2 separate regions of the Homo sapiens genome follow, and region 1 is linked to region 2. A link means that fine-mapping ties the variant in region 2 to the expression of a gene that starts in the linked region. Tissue or cell type: whole blood. Region 2 holds a variant in brackets; the other region holds the start of a gene. All regions are shown on one strand. Distances are between the middles of the regions.

The links. PIP is the estimated chance that this variant, and not a neighbour inherited with it, causes the effect.
Region 1: BTBD1 starts here. The variant in region 2 is fine-mapped to the expression of BTBD1 in whole blood (INTERVAL, PIP 0.99).

What each region holds. Positions count from the first base shown.
Region 1 is chr15:83,063,672-83,071,764 of GRCh38, forward strand. It overlaps BTBD1 (BTB domain containing 1), which reads right to left and starts at 3,581. Exons shown (of 8, transcript NM_025238.4): 1 at 3,080-3,581. The coding sequence starts at 3,480. MIR4515 (microRNA 4515) reads left to right here and starts at 3,664; the gene lies at 3,664-3,744. RefSeq lists silencers at 2,899-3,068, 3,309-3,788, 5,665-5,714 and enhancers at 3,849-3,968, 3,979-4,028, 5,466-5,760.
Region 2 is chr15:82,477,467-82,485,572 of GRCh38, forward strand. It overlaps the pseudogene GOLGA2P10. Among named protein-coding and RNA genes, the nearest start is that of GOLGA6L9, 52 kb to the left of the region's middle. The variant CAA/C (reference allele first, on the strand shown) is at 4,418.

The DNA.
Region 1 (8,093 bases), 590 kb after region 2:
AGCTGAAAAAGTCTTCGCTCAGTCTCTAAAGCCCTGCACCATCCTGTCTGGCCTATCTTTTTGACCTCATTTTCTACCACTTCCCTCTACTGTGCTTAAGGCACACTGGTTCACTCTTGTGTTCCTCCAACAGGAGATACTTAGTGCCGAAAACAATGCGTTCCCTTGCTGAGAATGTTCCTTCTCTCATAACTTGATTATTTTTCTTCAAAACATTCATCAGTACTTGACATTGTATCTTTAGTTTCCCTTTACTAGATTATGTGCTTCATGAGGGCAAGGACTTTTTCTTGTTTATTGCTGTGTCCCAAACACCTACAACAGCCATTCGCTGTTTCACAAGCGCCCCAAAAGGGAGGCATATAGTATTTGTCAAACAACTGAAGAACATCATTTAAAGGTCAGGCAGTTCAAAGTGCACAGTTTCTTTAAGGGCTTCAAACTTAAGTTCATGAGCCTGTAAGTAATGTTAACTAATTCAGGATGTTTACAAGTATGCCCAAACTAACCTGCTCTTCCAACTTAGCAAGTACTATCAGGCATCTTTTTGTCACGTATTAGCTAACAACAACATCTACGTTACACAGCCAGCCAAAATTAAATTTAGAAATCAGTCCAGATATCAATTTCAAAATAGAACAATGACCAGAACCTGAAGGATAAATACAATGCTAGGAAAATAAAACACACTGAAAATGTAAAAATGAAAAAAAAGTTTAAAAATGTAAAAAATGTTTTACAATGTGAAAAAAAAAATTGCACTGTCCTACATTTCAAACACTCTAAAATTAACTTACTTTCTATTGATGGGAAAGCACTAATTAGCAGCTTCGGTGAAAATATTAAAATATGTATTTTTCCTCTACATTCTTATCCTAGTAATCTCAATATTTTTTCAAAGTAAAAAATTGCCCCAAAATAGTTTTAGATTTGTGGTTCTTAAATTTAGTTTGTATAAGTATCACTTAGGGAGAGTGTTAAAAATGCTACCAAGGTCTCACCTCCAAATATTACGGTATATAATGAGGATGAGATCTACACATTTCATAAGCACCCCAGAAGATTATAATGCAGACGGCCCACAGATCATTTTGAAAACTACTTCTAGTCTAGAAAATCCAAATGAACTATACCCAATCCTCCTGGTGAACTTTAAACTAAAATGACCTGGATTTTAGCTTTTGAGGTCCCCCCCCTTTATAAATGTAACTGAACTAAATTACAGAAAATATCAGAAACAAAGAATAAAGAAGAAAAAAAGGTACTTTCATCTCACTACTCCAGGTGACTTTGCTTAGCATTTTGGTATGTTTCCTTTTATCCCGGTCTCTAGGTATATGTTTGTTCCATGTCTTTTCACGTTGTAACCATGGTGCAGTTTCAAGTGCTATCCGTCATATTTAGTGACTGCATTATATCTCATCAAGTGAACCTACCACTGTTTAACCATTCCCTACAGCTGACTACTTCCTCACTACTATAAATAAAGCTGTAAATATTTTTGTATGCAATTTGCAATACTTGAATGCTTCTTACGTGTGGAAAGAAAATCTATAGCACCAAACTGTTTTCCAAAAGGGTTTTTACCACCATCTTTGTCAGAAAATGCTGTTCAGATGTTACCTTTAAATTTTTTGGTGGGATTAATGGAAGGAAAAAATACCACTGTCTTTTAATTTGCACTTCCTAATTACCAGCCAGGTAAAACATTCGTTAATTAGTTGTATTTTTTCTTTCTCTAAGTTATCTATCCTGTCCTTTATCCATTCGTCAATGGAATCTTATTATTTGTTTCTAGTTGTGTGAACTTTACATTCATTTTCTTGTTCATCTTTCTGATTCAACTGTGAACCTTTGTATCTAATTCTGTCCCACTGACCTGCCTGTTTTTGCTTCAGTACTACCCAAGACTCTGCCATTTTAATAACAACACGTTCTACTCAGGCAGCTATTTAAAACCATCTTAGTATAATGAAACAGACATGGTCTTCAGTGTGAGTTAGCTGTTTGTTACCTTGGGCAAGATACTTGACTCTTCTGGGCCTCAGTCCCATTTGTGAAATTGGGGTAAACAATTCTTACGCCTCCCTAACAGGATGGCTGTGATTAAAAGCTAGTAATGCCAAACAATCACCTTTTCATTAGATGTCAATCTACTATCCTCAAATAACCAACAAGCAAATTCTAACATCAAGGGAGGGATTCATTTATAAGCAAATGTGACCTTGTGTGTAGAAACACAAAGCAGGTAAAGCCTCACTTGTCTGTTTTCGTATTTACTTTCCTGGGTCTTGACAACTAATACGTTAATGAAAAACAAAAACAAAAACAAAAAAGTGGCCAGGCGCGGTGGTTCACGCCTGTAATCCCAGCACTTTGGGAGGCCGAGGTGGACGGATCGCTTGACCCCAGGAGTCCGAGACCAGCCTGGGCAACATAGTGAAACCCTCTCTCTACCAAAAATAAAAATAAAAAAAATTAGCCGGGCGTGGTGGCGCGTGCCTGTAGTCCCAAATACTCGGGAGGCTGAGGTCGGAGCATCACCTGAGCCCGGAGAGGTCGAGGCTGCAGTGAGCCATGATCGCGCTACAGCATTCCAGCCTGGGCAACAGAGCAAGACCTTGTCTCAAAAAAAGCGGGGGGAAGGGGGTGACAATAACCCCAAAACATCAGTCCTGCAAGATTTTTCAACTACTCTCTTCCCCCAAACAAAAACATAAAACTTCGCAAATGGGCAATCAGGACAACCTGATCTGCCCCTCTATCCTTGCCACTTGTCTAATTCTGAAGTCTGAGCGACAATCCATAATTGGAATGCGAAACGCCTTTCAATGGTAAAACGCACGCTTGCCTAATGAAGACACTAACGTTTAGTTGGCGACTGAGCCGTCCTGGTTCACAGATTTCGATTTCGACCCTCCGGAGCATCAACGGCTCGGGAGGAAACTGAGGCCCCGGGCGGGTCAGAAGAGCCCAGCCCAAGGTCATCCGGGAGTCCGGGTAGGCCGGGCCCCGGGGATCTCCCAGCCCGGCCCGGCCCGGCCCGGCCCGGCCCGGCCCGGCCCGCGCTGCCGCTCACCTCAGCAGCGCCAGGAAGGCTGCGGGCTCCACGTCCGGCAGCTCGATCTCGGCCGACGTGGTGGCCATGCCGCCGTTGAACATGGCGTCAAAGACGGCGCTGCCGGCCGCCAGCACGAAGCGGTGGGCGGGGATGCGCTGCGGGCCCCCAGCGGCGGCGGCGCCGCGACCCTTGCCCAGTACGAAGCGCACATCGCTCAGCAGCTCCGAGTTGAAGAGGAAGGCGAAGCGCTCCTTCAGCGACGCCTTGGTCGCCTGCCAGTTGTAGAGAGGTTCCCGCTGCAGGGGGAGCAGGGGCCCCAGAGAGGACGGTGAGGGCGGCGGCGGCGGCCCCGCGGGGCCCGGCTCCGCCTCAGCCCCCGACGCCTGCTCCCCAGCTGCGGCAGGCCCGAGTGAGGCCATCCTCCAGCTGCGCGGTTGCCCACGTTATGGACAAAACTCCGCCGCCATCGCCCAGGCCGCCTCCGGAGGCCGGCGCTGCCTCCCTGCCTTCCGGGAAAGGCGCTTCCGGGGGCCTCGCGCCTCCGCAGGCCCCTCCCTGACCGCGCGCGCCCCCGCACGCCCGGGTTGCCGCTGTGCGCGGCCGCGGGAGGTGTAACAGGACTGGACTCCCGGCAGCCCCAGGGCAGGGGCGTGGGGAGCTGGTCCTAGCTCAGCGCTCCCGGAGGTGGAGCTTCTGCAGGCTGGGTGCTGCCGGGCCTACGGGCACCCACCCCCTGGCTCAGTGCCCTGGGTATTCTGACTCAGTAGGTCTGGGGTAGGGCCTGAGAATTTGTAATTTTAAGATGCATCGTGGATCTGCAGGCGGCTCTCACGGCTGCCTTTTTCTTCCTGCAGGCCCCTTATCACCAAGTCCAGCGCCCCCATTGTGTATCTGGGACATGTCCCAAGGCCTGTCCCGAGGAGTGTTTTGCCTGGAAGTGGAGGGGCAGGAAAGTATGGCCAAGGGAACACGTGAGGGAGGGGATGACATGACTTCCCACAACCCTGTACCCCAAGCGTGGCCAAGTCGCCGCTCCAGAAGGCCGCGAAACCCGTGGAAATTCCGGAAGCAGAGGTGGAAGGCTTAGAACCCCAGTGACCTCTCCCCAGGTCCGCAGGTCCCTTTCCCTTCTAATTGACCCTTTGGTTCCGTCCTCTGGGCCTAAGAGACATTTCCTTCTACTGCTTCCACCCCTGTATTTGAAACCCCTCGTGCTTGCCCACCTTCTCTTGTAGCGCTTTTCAGTCCTTGCACTGAACCACTGCCTAAGCTTGAAATTTAAAAAATTAAAAACTAAAACACACACACAATGGAAAAGGCTGTATTATCCCTTCCCAGGCAGTATTTACAACCCGGTCATCATGATTGGGGGACCGAGGCCTTCCTTTTTCTCCCTTCAGTGAGGCAGGCCCTGAGTTAAGTCAGCTGTCAAAAGCAGAACGTAGAAAACCCAAGAAATAGTCCTTGACCAGGCACGTATAGTTGGAAACACCTGTTCTTTGCAGGAAGAGCCTTACAGATTACAAATGCCGTCAAGTAAATAGTAAACCCCAAACCTGGGTTTCTCCTGTAAAATCACTCCACTTGTGAAACCACCAGAGGGGACTTCCAGCTGTTAGGCATTTAGAATGGTAACTTCTTTGGGAGAGGAACGTGCTTGGGAAGAGACTTAAAGTAGTAGGGGCTGAAATAGTGGATGCACAACCCCTTCCCCATTGCCAGCCGGCAATTCCTAAAGACAAAGGGACATCATGCTACTAATGATACCATTATCACACCTAACAAAATTAACCATATCATCAAATCATCTATATATGATTTTTTTTTTTTTGAGACGGAGTCTCGCTCTGTTGCCAAAGCTGGAGTGCAATGGCATGAAGTCTGCCTTCCGGGCTCAAGCGATTCTCCTCCTCAGCCTCCCGAGTAGCTGGGGTTACAGGTGCGTGTCACCACATCCAGCTAATTATTTGTATTTTTAGTAGAGACGGGGTTTCACCATATTGGCCAGGCTCCTCTCCAAGTCCTGACCTCGTGATCTACCCGCCTCGGCCTCCCAAAGTGCTGGGATTACAGGCATGAGCCACCAGGCCTGGTCCTATGTATAATATTTAATGTACAGTTAATATTTGTTTCTCCACTTGTCTCTAAAAAAATTTTTTTTTGAGACGGAGTCTTGCTCTGTTGCCCAGGCTGGAGGGCAGTGGCATGATCTCCGCTCACTGCAAGCTCTGCCTCCCACGTTCACGCCATTCTCCTGTCTCAGCCTCCCGAGTAGCTGGGACTACAGGCACCTGCCACCAAGCCTGCTGATTTTTTTTTTTTTTTGTATTTTTAGTGTGTCCAGAGTTCGTTCCTTCTGGTGGGTTCGTGGTCTTGCTGACTTCAAGAATGGAGCTGTGGACCTTCCTGATGAGTTTTATAGCTCTTAAGATGGCAGGGACCCAAAGACTTCTTCTGAAGAGCAAAAGAACAAAGCCCTTATGTCATGGAAAGGAACCCCAACGGGTGGTTGCAGTCTCTGGGCGTGGGGGCAGGAGGGGAGGGGCCGGCGGGGGTGGGGGGGGTGGAGTCAGCTTTTACTTCCTTATTTGTCCCCGCCCATGTCCTGCTGATTGGTCCATTTTACAGAATGCTGATTGGTGCACTTTACAGAGTGCTGATTGGTCTATTTTACAGGGTGCTGATTGGTCCATTTTACGGAATGCTGATTGGTCCATTTTACAGAGTGCTGATTGGTCCACTTTACAGAGTGCTGATTGGTCCATTTTACAAACCTCTAGCTAGCCACAGAGTGCTGATTGGTGTGTTTTTACAGAGCACTGACTGGCACATTTTACAAACCACTTGTAAGACAGAAAAGTTCTTCAAGTCCTCACCCTACCCAGAAGTCCAGTTGGCTTCACCTGTCATTAGTAGAGACGGGGTTTCACCGTGTTAGCCAGGATGGTCTCAATCTACTGACCTTATGATCTGCCCACCTTGGCCTCCCAAAGTGCTGGGATTACAGGCATGAGCCACTGTGCCTGGCCAAAAATATCTTTCACAGATGACTTTTTTTCCAATCCAGGATCAAATCAATGTTCACATATTATTGACTGTGTTGACTTCTTTGAAGGTCCGGGGAATTGTGGAGTATAATGCTCCACAATCTGGATTTGTCTGGTGGATTCTGTATGATTCATGGTTAGATTCCAGGTTAAACATTTTAGGCAAGAATATGCTGGTGATGTTAAGTACTTCATTGCCTCACTTCAGAAAGCGTATGTTGGTGATGCTAAGCTTGATGACCTGGTGAGGCTGTGACTGTCAGATCCCTCCATTATGAAGGTGTATGATTCTTATGTAATAAGTAATCCATGAGGGTGATGCTCTGAGACTGTTTGACCAGTCTGTTTCCCCAAAAAGCTTTCACCTACTGATTTCAGTATCCATTGATGATTCAGAAAATTAATTCACTTACTACTTTTAAGTGTCATCCCAGGTATTCTAATGCAGGCCTTTCATAGATCACACTCTATAGTATACTATACTAGCTAGTTTAAAAGGAAAGAGATTAAAAAACATAGAATTGGACATAAGAAAGGATATATAAACATAATTGTGGAGTTTAAAAATATGAGTAATTCTATTAGTGGCTTTGAAAATATCAAAGGAATGTACTCGTCTAGAAAACCTGGACAATTCAATTATCTATACAGGACATTAAAACTTTCAAAATAATAACCTTCAGGGAAGACTGGTTCCAGATGAGCTCGTTAAACATGTTATTATTGTTTTAAAGGAAATGTTTAAAATAATACATGTTTGTTATAGAAGTAAGTAGACTTCCAGTTTCAGCCATAATGTACCAACTTGTCTAACCCTCCCACCAAAAACAACTATACAAGCTGGAGTGTGTGTGTGTGTGTGTGTGTGTGTGTGTGTGTGTAAACAACTGTTTGAAGGCATTGTTAAAGAAAAAAATTATTCTGGGCTGTTGCAGTGGCGCACGCCTGTAATCCCAGCACTTTGGAAGGACAAGGCAGGCAGATCACCTGAGGTTAGGGTTTGAGACCAGCCTGGCTAACATGGTGAAACCCCATGTCTACTAAAAATACAAAAATTAACCGGGTGTGGTGACATACGCCTGTAATCCCAGCTACTTGGGAGGCTGAGGCAGGAGAATCGTTTGAACCTGGGAGGCAGAGGTTGCAGGGAGCCAAGATCGTGCCGCTGCACTCCAGCCTGGGCAACAGAGCAAGACTCCATCTCAAAAAAAAAAAAAGAAGAAAGAAAAAAATTATTCTGACACTAGTTAAAATGGTAAGAAAGATTTTATTCAAGATGATTGCAGTGGAAGCATTGCAACAGGAGAGAGAGATCAGGCACAGTTCTGAAAACAACATCAACAGCTGGGCATTTATAGCCAATGAACAAAGTGAAGGGGGGTCAATGGGTGGAAAATTACTAAGATGATGCGTTAAGGGTGGGGAGATTCTTTCTAAGACTGGGTTGGGCAGGCCAAAGACAGGATATGGGCCAAGGTAGAGGCCTAGTTGAGAAAAAAGTCCTAAGGAGCCTGAATAAAAAGTTTGGTCAAGGGAGTTTTTGTCAATATTAAAGAATAACAGATGCTGGCCAGGCCCAGTGGCTCATGCCTGTAATTGCAGCACTTTGGGAGACCGAGGTGGGCAGATCACCTGAGGTTAGGAGTTTGAGACCAGCCTAGCCAACATGGTGAAACCCCATGTCTACTAAAAATACAAAAAAATTAGCCAGGCGTGGTGGGGGGCGCCTATAATCTCAGCTACTTGGGAGGCTGAGGCAGGAGAATTGCATGACCCCGGGAGGTGGAGGTTGTAGTGAGCTGAGACTGTGCCATTACACTCCAGCCTGGGCAACAAGAATGAAACTCCATCTCAAAAAATATATAAATAAATGAATTTTTTAAAAAAGAATAAAAGATGGCCGGGCACAGTGGCTCATACCTGTAATCCCAGCACTTTGGGAGGCTGAGGCAAGTGGATCATGAGGTCAGCCATTTAAGACCAGC
Region 2 (8,106 bases):
GCTGGGGCCGCTACCTCTGGCTTTTTCTGGGACGAGGCCACTGGGTGAGCCAGGGGCTGGCAGCACACCCTTTGTTCCTCCTGGGCATTGGCTCCAGCGGAGTTGAAAAATGCCACCTGAAGACAAGAGGTGAGTATTCTTGTAGGGGTATACACATAACAACTGGGGCAGGCAGATGGAGCATAGCCCCTTCCTTTCGGGCCTCACAGAGTGCACCTGTTGGTCACAGGTGAAATGGTGTCTGACCACTGGCTCCCAGAAGCAGAGAAAGTCCACAGAAGTCAGAAGGCGGGGAAACCAAGAACATAAGGGGGTTTCGGAGGGACCACAGAGGAAGGTGGCAAAGTAGGGGCAGGGAAAGTCAGGCTCACCATGGCCTCCCGGCTCTCCAGGTCCCCTGGGATGTTCGGCATGGGCCGAAGCGCCTCCTGCTCACTGTCCAGATGTCCTCCTCCATCTCCTGTGGGGGGTGGCCAGAGGGGTCCTCAGACAACCCAACAAGGGAGGTACAGTGGGCCCGCCTCTGCCCCCACACTCACTGTGTAACCTTGAGCCAGCCCCTCCCCAGAGGGGAATGAGCTGTTCTTTATTTTGAATTTTAAGAACCAAGATCTTGCTATATTGCCCAGGCACAGTCCCACTACCGATTGGTGCAGGAATTCTGACCTGCTCCCTTTCTGACCTGAGCCAGTTCTCCCATCCTTAGGCAAGCCGATGACCTGTTCCCAGGAGGTCACCATACTGATACTGAACTTAGTGCGGACACCTTGTCGGCATAATGACCGACACAAAATGCTTAAAAGGTAACCTGACTCTTTGTTCAGGGCTCAGTCCTTTAGATGTTAATCTGACTGGGCCGGTGCACCTAAATAATATATATCCTCCTCAGTCTCTCTGATTCCTAAATTATGCTGCTGTACGGGGAGAGAGGCAGCAGGGTAGTGGAGTCATACCAAGCAACAAGACAGGGTAGTGGCCAGGCATGGTGGCTCACACCTGTAATCCCAGCAATTTGGGAGGCCAAGGCGGGTGGATCACCTGAGGTCAGGAGTTCGAGACCAGCCTGGCCAACATGATGAAACCCCATCTCTACTAAAAACACAAAAATTAGCTGGGCATGGTGGCAGGTGCCTGTAATCCCAGCTACTCAGGAGGCTGAGGCAGGAGAATTGCTTGAACCCAGGAGATGGAAGTTGCAGTAAGCCAAGATTGTGCCATTGCACTCCAGCCAGGGGGACAAGAGGGAGACTTCACCTCGAAAGACAGACAGACAGGCTAGTACGTTTTCCACAAATTTCAATTTTACTCTCTTCCCCCACCACACACACACACACAAAGCATTTGAGGGATGGGAGGAAGAAACTGAGATCACAGGGAAAATTGTAAGAGACATTCAGAAGGACAGGTCTTAGAAATTTACTAGTTTGGGGGGGAGGTCAGAACAGGTGTATATAAAAGAATATTAAGACAGTTCCCAGGTTTAGGCATATGTGACTAGATAGAGTGCTAGGAGATGGATACGTGAAAATTTAAATATCATCATTTTGAACACCCATGTCACTCCAAGTGAGATTCCCTAAATATATGATATACAGACAGATATATGGGTTTGAAACTCTGGAGATGAATACAAATTTAGGAGTCCCTGGAACACAGGTCATGACTTAAGTAATGGGAGTCAAAGATTACTCAGAGAAAGCACAGAATGAGAAGAGAAGAAGTAGGACAAGGAAGAAGAGATCGGAGGAGACCAAGAAAGGGTGATAAGATCAAAACAGGAGAAAAGAATCCGACAGAAGTCTCATTTGATTATCATGTCCCTTCCCAGAGGACAGGGACATGTCTTTTTTGTCTTTTATACCCAATTATCACAGGTCCTGGTGCAGCAGACACACAGTTTTTTTTTTTTTTAATTGTGTTGTACTATTCACAGTTTCCTGTATTCACCAGGGGAGAAAAAAGTAAGTATAAAGAAGCACAGACACAGATGTTTTTACACTGTGTACTAAAGGGGTCAGATTATACACAATATTTTATGCCTTACTTTTTTACTTAATATATCTTAGAAGTTTGCACGTGCTCTTATGGAAAGACTGGCTGCATTTTTTGGTCCACAACAGAACAACAGAATATTATAAAACGGTACACTATAATTTTTATTTAACCAACTCTTTATTGGTGGACATTAAGAATGGAGGAATGTTTCAACAAAGGAACAATCAACAGTATCAAAATACTGCAGAGGGGTCAATTTGGGGACTAAGAGGGGAGCCACTGGATTTGACAACTAGGAGATAAATTTTAGTGCAACGATGAAGGCAGAATCCAGAGTATAATGAGCTCAGTGAAAAAAGGTGAAGACATGTAGCTTATTCTCTCAAGAAACTAGGCTATGATAAACTGGCAGAGGCTCTAAGAGTGGGAGGTGAGTTGTTTTCTCCTTCATGTAAATATATTTACCTTTTAAACACTAGGCCCAATTTTATATCCTATTTCATTTAACTTTATGAACATATTTATGTATGTATGCATGTATGTATGTATCTCATGTGGTGTTTTAGACACTGAAAAATAACTCATTTCTATTATAAAACTGATATCTTTAGATGTTCAGAAGCAACTTCCTAAAAGGAGGTAGCAGTAATGGAGCTATGTCTATCATTCTTTCCCATCAACCCCCTTGATGGAGATGTAAACATGTGTCCATCAAGCCTTTAATTTTTACCTCTTATCTTCATGGCTCTCCATATAAAACTTAACTCTTTTTTTTTTCTATTTGTATATGTATATTTATATGTATATCTATATCGAGAGAGAGAGAGAGAGAAAGAGTCTTGCTATGTTGCCCAGGCTGATCTCAAACTCCTGGGCTCAAGCAATCCTCCCACCTTGGCCTCGCAAAGTGCTGGGATTACAGGCGTGAACCACTGTGCCCAGCCTCAGCCTTAACTCTTAAAATATCTTCAAACCAATATTCTTCTGTTCTAATTTTTAAGAATAGATGTGTTTAAACCAACTAACTTATTTTGACAAAAATTGGAGTTAAGACTCAGACTTCCTCAAATAGTTCTCCTAAAACCATTTACAGAATAATCTATCTTTTCAGTATTAAGTTAAAATACCACCTTTTCCTTATACTAAATTCTCGTTTGCATGACTCTGGTTCTAAACTTCCATTGCCTTTATCTGTCTGGCCCAGGGATAGTCCACAATATTTTATTTACTATCTGGTTGAAAGAGTCTATACTTTATTAATTTTTATTACTTATTCTTCTAAACAAATTTTAGAGTCGTTTTGTCAAGTGTCAAAAATAAATCTGCCAGAATTTGTACTGAAATTTGTGTGTGTGTGTGTATATATATAATACACACACACTATATATAAAATATAAAATGTATATATACAATTTATATATATAAATATTTATAAAATATGAAATATATATATATACACACACACTTTTCTAGTTTTTTTTTTTTTTTTTTTTTTTTTTTTGAGACAGGGTCTCACTCTGTCACCTAGGCTGGAGTTCAGAGGCATGATCTCGGCTCACTGCAACCTCTGCCTCCCAGGCTCAAGTGCTCCTCCCACCTCAGCCTCAGAAGTAGTTGGAAATACAAGTGTGTGCCACAGACACCCAGCTAATTGTCATCTACCCGCCTCAGCTTCCCAAACTGTTTGGATTACAGGTATGAGCCACTGTGCCCAGCAGAAATTACATTTACAAATTAATATGAAGACATGGTGATAACTAACATATTTATAACATGAAATCTGCTCATCCAGGAACATAGAATGCAAATCTTTCATTCCACTCAGCAAAATTTTGTCCTGTCCTTGATAAAAGTCCTGCACATCTAAGTTTATTCCTAGGTATTTAATTTTTGCTGAAATACCTGAAAAAATACTTCATCACTATATCTTCTATGTGATTATAGCTAACATTGGGGAAGGCTATTGATTTTTATATAAAAGAACTTTTAACCAGTAATCTTAAAAATTGTTTTTTCTCAGTTGGTTCCTTTGGATATTTTTAGGTAAACAATCATGTCAACTGAAAATAATGATTATTTTTCTATAAAGACTATGACATCACAGGAAAATACAGTAAATACTTTTTAAAAGAATATAAAAGGGCCAGGCACAGTGGCTCACGCCTGTAATCCCAGCACTTTGGGAGGCCAAGGTGGGCAGACCATGAGGTCAGGAGATCGAGACCATCCTGGCTAACACGGTGGAACCCCATCTCTACTAAAAAATACAAAAAATTAGCCGGGAATGGTGGCGGGCGCCTGTAGTCCCAGCTACTGGGGAGGCTGAGGCAGGAGAATGGTGGGAACCCAGGAGGTGGAGCTTGCAGTGAGCCGAGACCACGGCACTGCACTCCAGCCTGGGTGACAGAGCAAGACTCTGTCT[CAA/C]AAAAAAAAAAAAAAAAAAAAAAAAAAATATATATATATATATATATAAAAAACTATAGAGAATATGACCTCAACTATTAAGCATATGTGTAAGGGTTATGTATTTTAATAGCAAAGAAAAAATATATACTGGTAGAAAATGACCATCATGTCAACAGTCAATAGTGGTTATATTAGATAGAGAAATTATGGGAGACTTTAATTTTTTTCTTTTATCTTTTCTGTACTTTACCAATTTTCTCAACAATGGTTGCTTATGAGTTTTAAAATTAAAAAAAGGTTTTAAAAATTTTTCCAACATGGAAAGTTATATTTCTTTATATACTAAAACAAAAACAAAACTTTCTATTTGAATACCTATGGCAAAACCCTATCTCTACAAAAAATACAAAAAATTAGCAAGGTGGGGTAGTACACACCTGTAGTCCCAGCTACTCTAGAGGCTGAGGTGGGAGGATCACCTGAGTCCCCAGAGAATGAGGCTCCAGTGAGCCGTGATCATAGCACTGCATTCCAGCCTGGGAGACAGAGAAAGACCCCATCTCAAAAAAAAAAAAAAAAGAAAGAAAGAAAAAAGAAATATCCACAATGATCTGAAATGCCTATCTGTATGAGACTGTCCTTTGTTCACATTTTTTCAAGCAAATATCACACAATAAATTGAATGCAGGTACAAATGACATATCAAACATCAAAGAAATTTGCAAAAGATGTAAGACTGTACTACCTTGGGTTTAGAAATTTTCTTATCATAAAAGCATTTATAACAATATTTTGTGAGCTTTTAAGGAATATTTTAAGTATTTCTGATTTAATTTCTAGTGATAAATACCAATAGATATAACCCACATACACAAAAGCTCCTTGGGCCCTCAATATACTTTTAAGAGTGTAAAGGAATCCTGACCCCAAAACTTTGAGAACTGCTGCCTTCCCCTCTACTTTATTCCTTCCCTAGAATTTCTTCCTTGGAAGAAACATTCCTTTGCCATTCTATGTTAACTTACATAGTTCCATTGAGGCCAGTTTTGCTACCTCTCTCCCATCTTTCCACATCCCTCTCTTGACACAAAACCTGACCAAAGGACTCTACCGGCCCGCCCCATTTCCAGTGATTAGCTGTCAGGTGGGCTAAGCCAAGAAAATCTGGGTTTTCCCTGAGACTAGACCTCTCTTTCTGGGAGATACGGAATCACAGGGACAAGGCTGGCCCTGTCAGAATTCATCTTGTCTAAATGGGAAGAGGTTAGGCAAGTTTCTAGAATGCCAGACTGCTTTCTAGAAAGTCAAAGATAATTATACTTTCTGCCACGACTGTGAAAATGCCCATTTCATTGCACGCTTTCTAACATTTATACCAATCTGATAAATAAAAGCTGGTACCTAGAAGAAAAAAAGGCTGGGTATGGTGGCTCATGCCTGTAATCCCAGTACTTTGGGAGACCAAGGTGAGTGGATCACCTGAGGTCAGGAGTTCGAGACAAGCCTGGCCAACATGATGAAACCCCATCTCTAGTAAAAACACAAACATTAGCCGGGCATGGTGGCAGGCCCCTGTAATCCCAACTACTCGGGAGGCTGAGGCAAGAGGATCACTTGAACCTGGGAGGTGGAGGTTTTAGTGAGCCAAGATCATGCCATTGCCCTCCAGCCTGGGTGACAAGCTGAGACTTTGTCTCAAAAAAAAAAAAAAAAAAAAAGTTTCCATACAATATAATTTGTTCCATCTCTAAAAACCAATTCAGCAATAACTGAAAGCCACCACTTGGAAGGTTTCAAGGATTTAGCTCTACCTGTTGATGATGTCCAAAGCATTAGTTAAGGTAGAAAAAAAATACACACACACACACACACACACACACACACACACACACTCACCCCTATGTAGTCAGTACCAGGAAACACGAAAGACTAGATGGTACAGTCATCCAACACAAAGCACACAATAACTGAAGGCACTGTAGAGGAGTAACTTATGACACAGATCTACAATATTGAGTGAAAATGCAGATTACAAAAAAAAAATCTGATTTTTTAAGGGAGAGGGAACACATACAAGCAAAGGAGAAAAGAGATGAGCAGATGACTGAAAGATACAAAATTCTGATAGTGGTACATTCTGAGTGGTAGAATTATCAGTATTATTTTCTAGTTTTGCCTAAAAATTTTCTAAATTTCTTAAGAACTTTTTGTTATCCATATTATCAAATATCCATCACCCCAGGAAACTTAACCTTGAGCACAAACTCTACAACAAGTTCAATGTTTGTTCAGTTTAATATTTAAGAGACAACCTATTTTGAAAGACATCTAAAATGATGACCAATATTTAAACCTATGCATTAATATTTTTCAATCATATCCTTCACATTTTGTAATTTTGATAAGGTTAAGCTTTAGATCCATCTTGAAAAGATAAGCTTTCTGTTTGTCTTTAAAATATGACCCACAATATGCCTGTTTTTAAACAGTGAATGATGCTCTAAAATCACAATATAAATTCAGGCAGTGCTCCTTACATGGAAAGTTTAAGTACTTCTAACACTGCTCTTTTTCACTTGTTATGAAAACACAGAACAATTATCTAAGCATCTAATTATTCAGGTCCTTTGTTTCTCCTCCAATCTATTAGTTTTATAGTAATTTTAGGGCCTGTGAGGATGAAGCTGTCTGTGACAGCTACCACAAAGGTTACTATAGGTGGACAAATTTCAAACAAGTTTATCACCACTACCATCCCCACCATAAAACTGTCTCAATCAAGGGCAACACAATTCAATATTAGCCAAGACAACCTCTTTACCTGTCACTGCTTAAGAAAAGGATTTTTGGTCTTATTTAGAAATAACTTTCCGTACCTATTTTTCTCCATAAATCCACTGAGACCAATGTGTGGCTCTATCGCAAGCACCAGCAAGCAAAACTGCCTGCTAGAAGGTTCAGTTTTTGTATCTTTCCAAATGTAGAACACAGCTATCTTCAAGGATTTCATAATTTTTTGAAAATTGATGCACAAACTTCTTGAAAGTTCAGAGACACAGCAGCTGTAATTATTCTGAAGGCTGGTTACGGGACACATTACCTTCATACTTTGCTGTTTAAGAAATGTGGGGTGGAGAATCAAGTAAACTGATAGAATTTCCATATAAAATTCTAAGTGCTCTGAGAACAAAAGAAACTTAAAATACACACACACACACACACACACACACACACACACACGGTTTTCCCTACTAATCATTTTACAACTAAACAACCAAGTTGCTAAACCAGAGCCCACAAAAGCAGAGTCAAAGTTCTAACACTTGGTAAAAGAAAAATGCACACATACCCCTGTGAGCTAAAAAAAAAAATGCTTAAGTATTCAAAGACAGCAATTACAGCTACTGAGAACATCACTGTAAGCAAACTGAGGCAGAGAAAACAAACGTGCTGATGAGGATTTGAACCACCTAAGCTGCAGAAACCCACTGGATGGTTTCCTAGGTTCCGAGTTGGCATTATCTTTCAGAACAATCTTCTAGAAGAGATCACATAACACTGTTACAAAGGATCTGGAGAAAGGGACCCTGGCTTCATCACTGTGGCTCTCCAGTCATGCTTTACATTTGGCAGTGACTATCTCCATTCAACTCAATTCCCTAACCCTAAACTAGCTGACATTTATCAAATACTGCCCTTTACCAG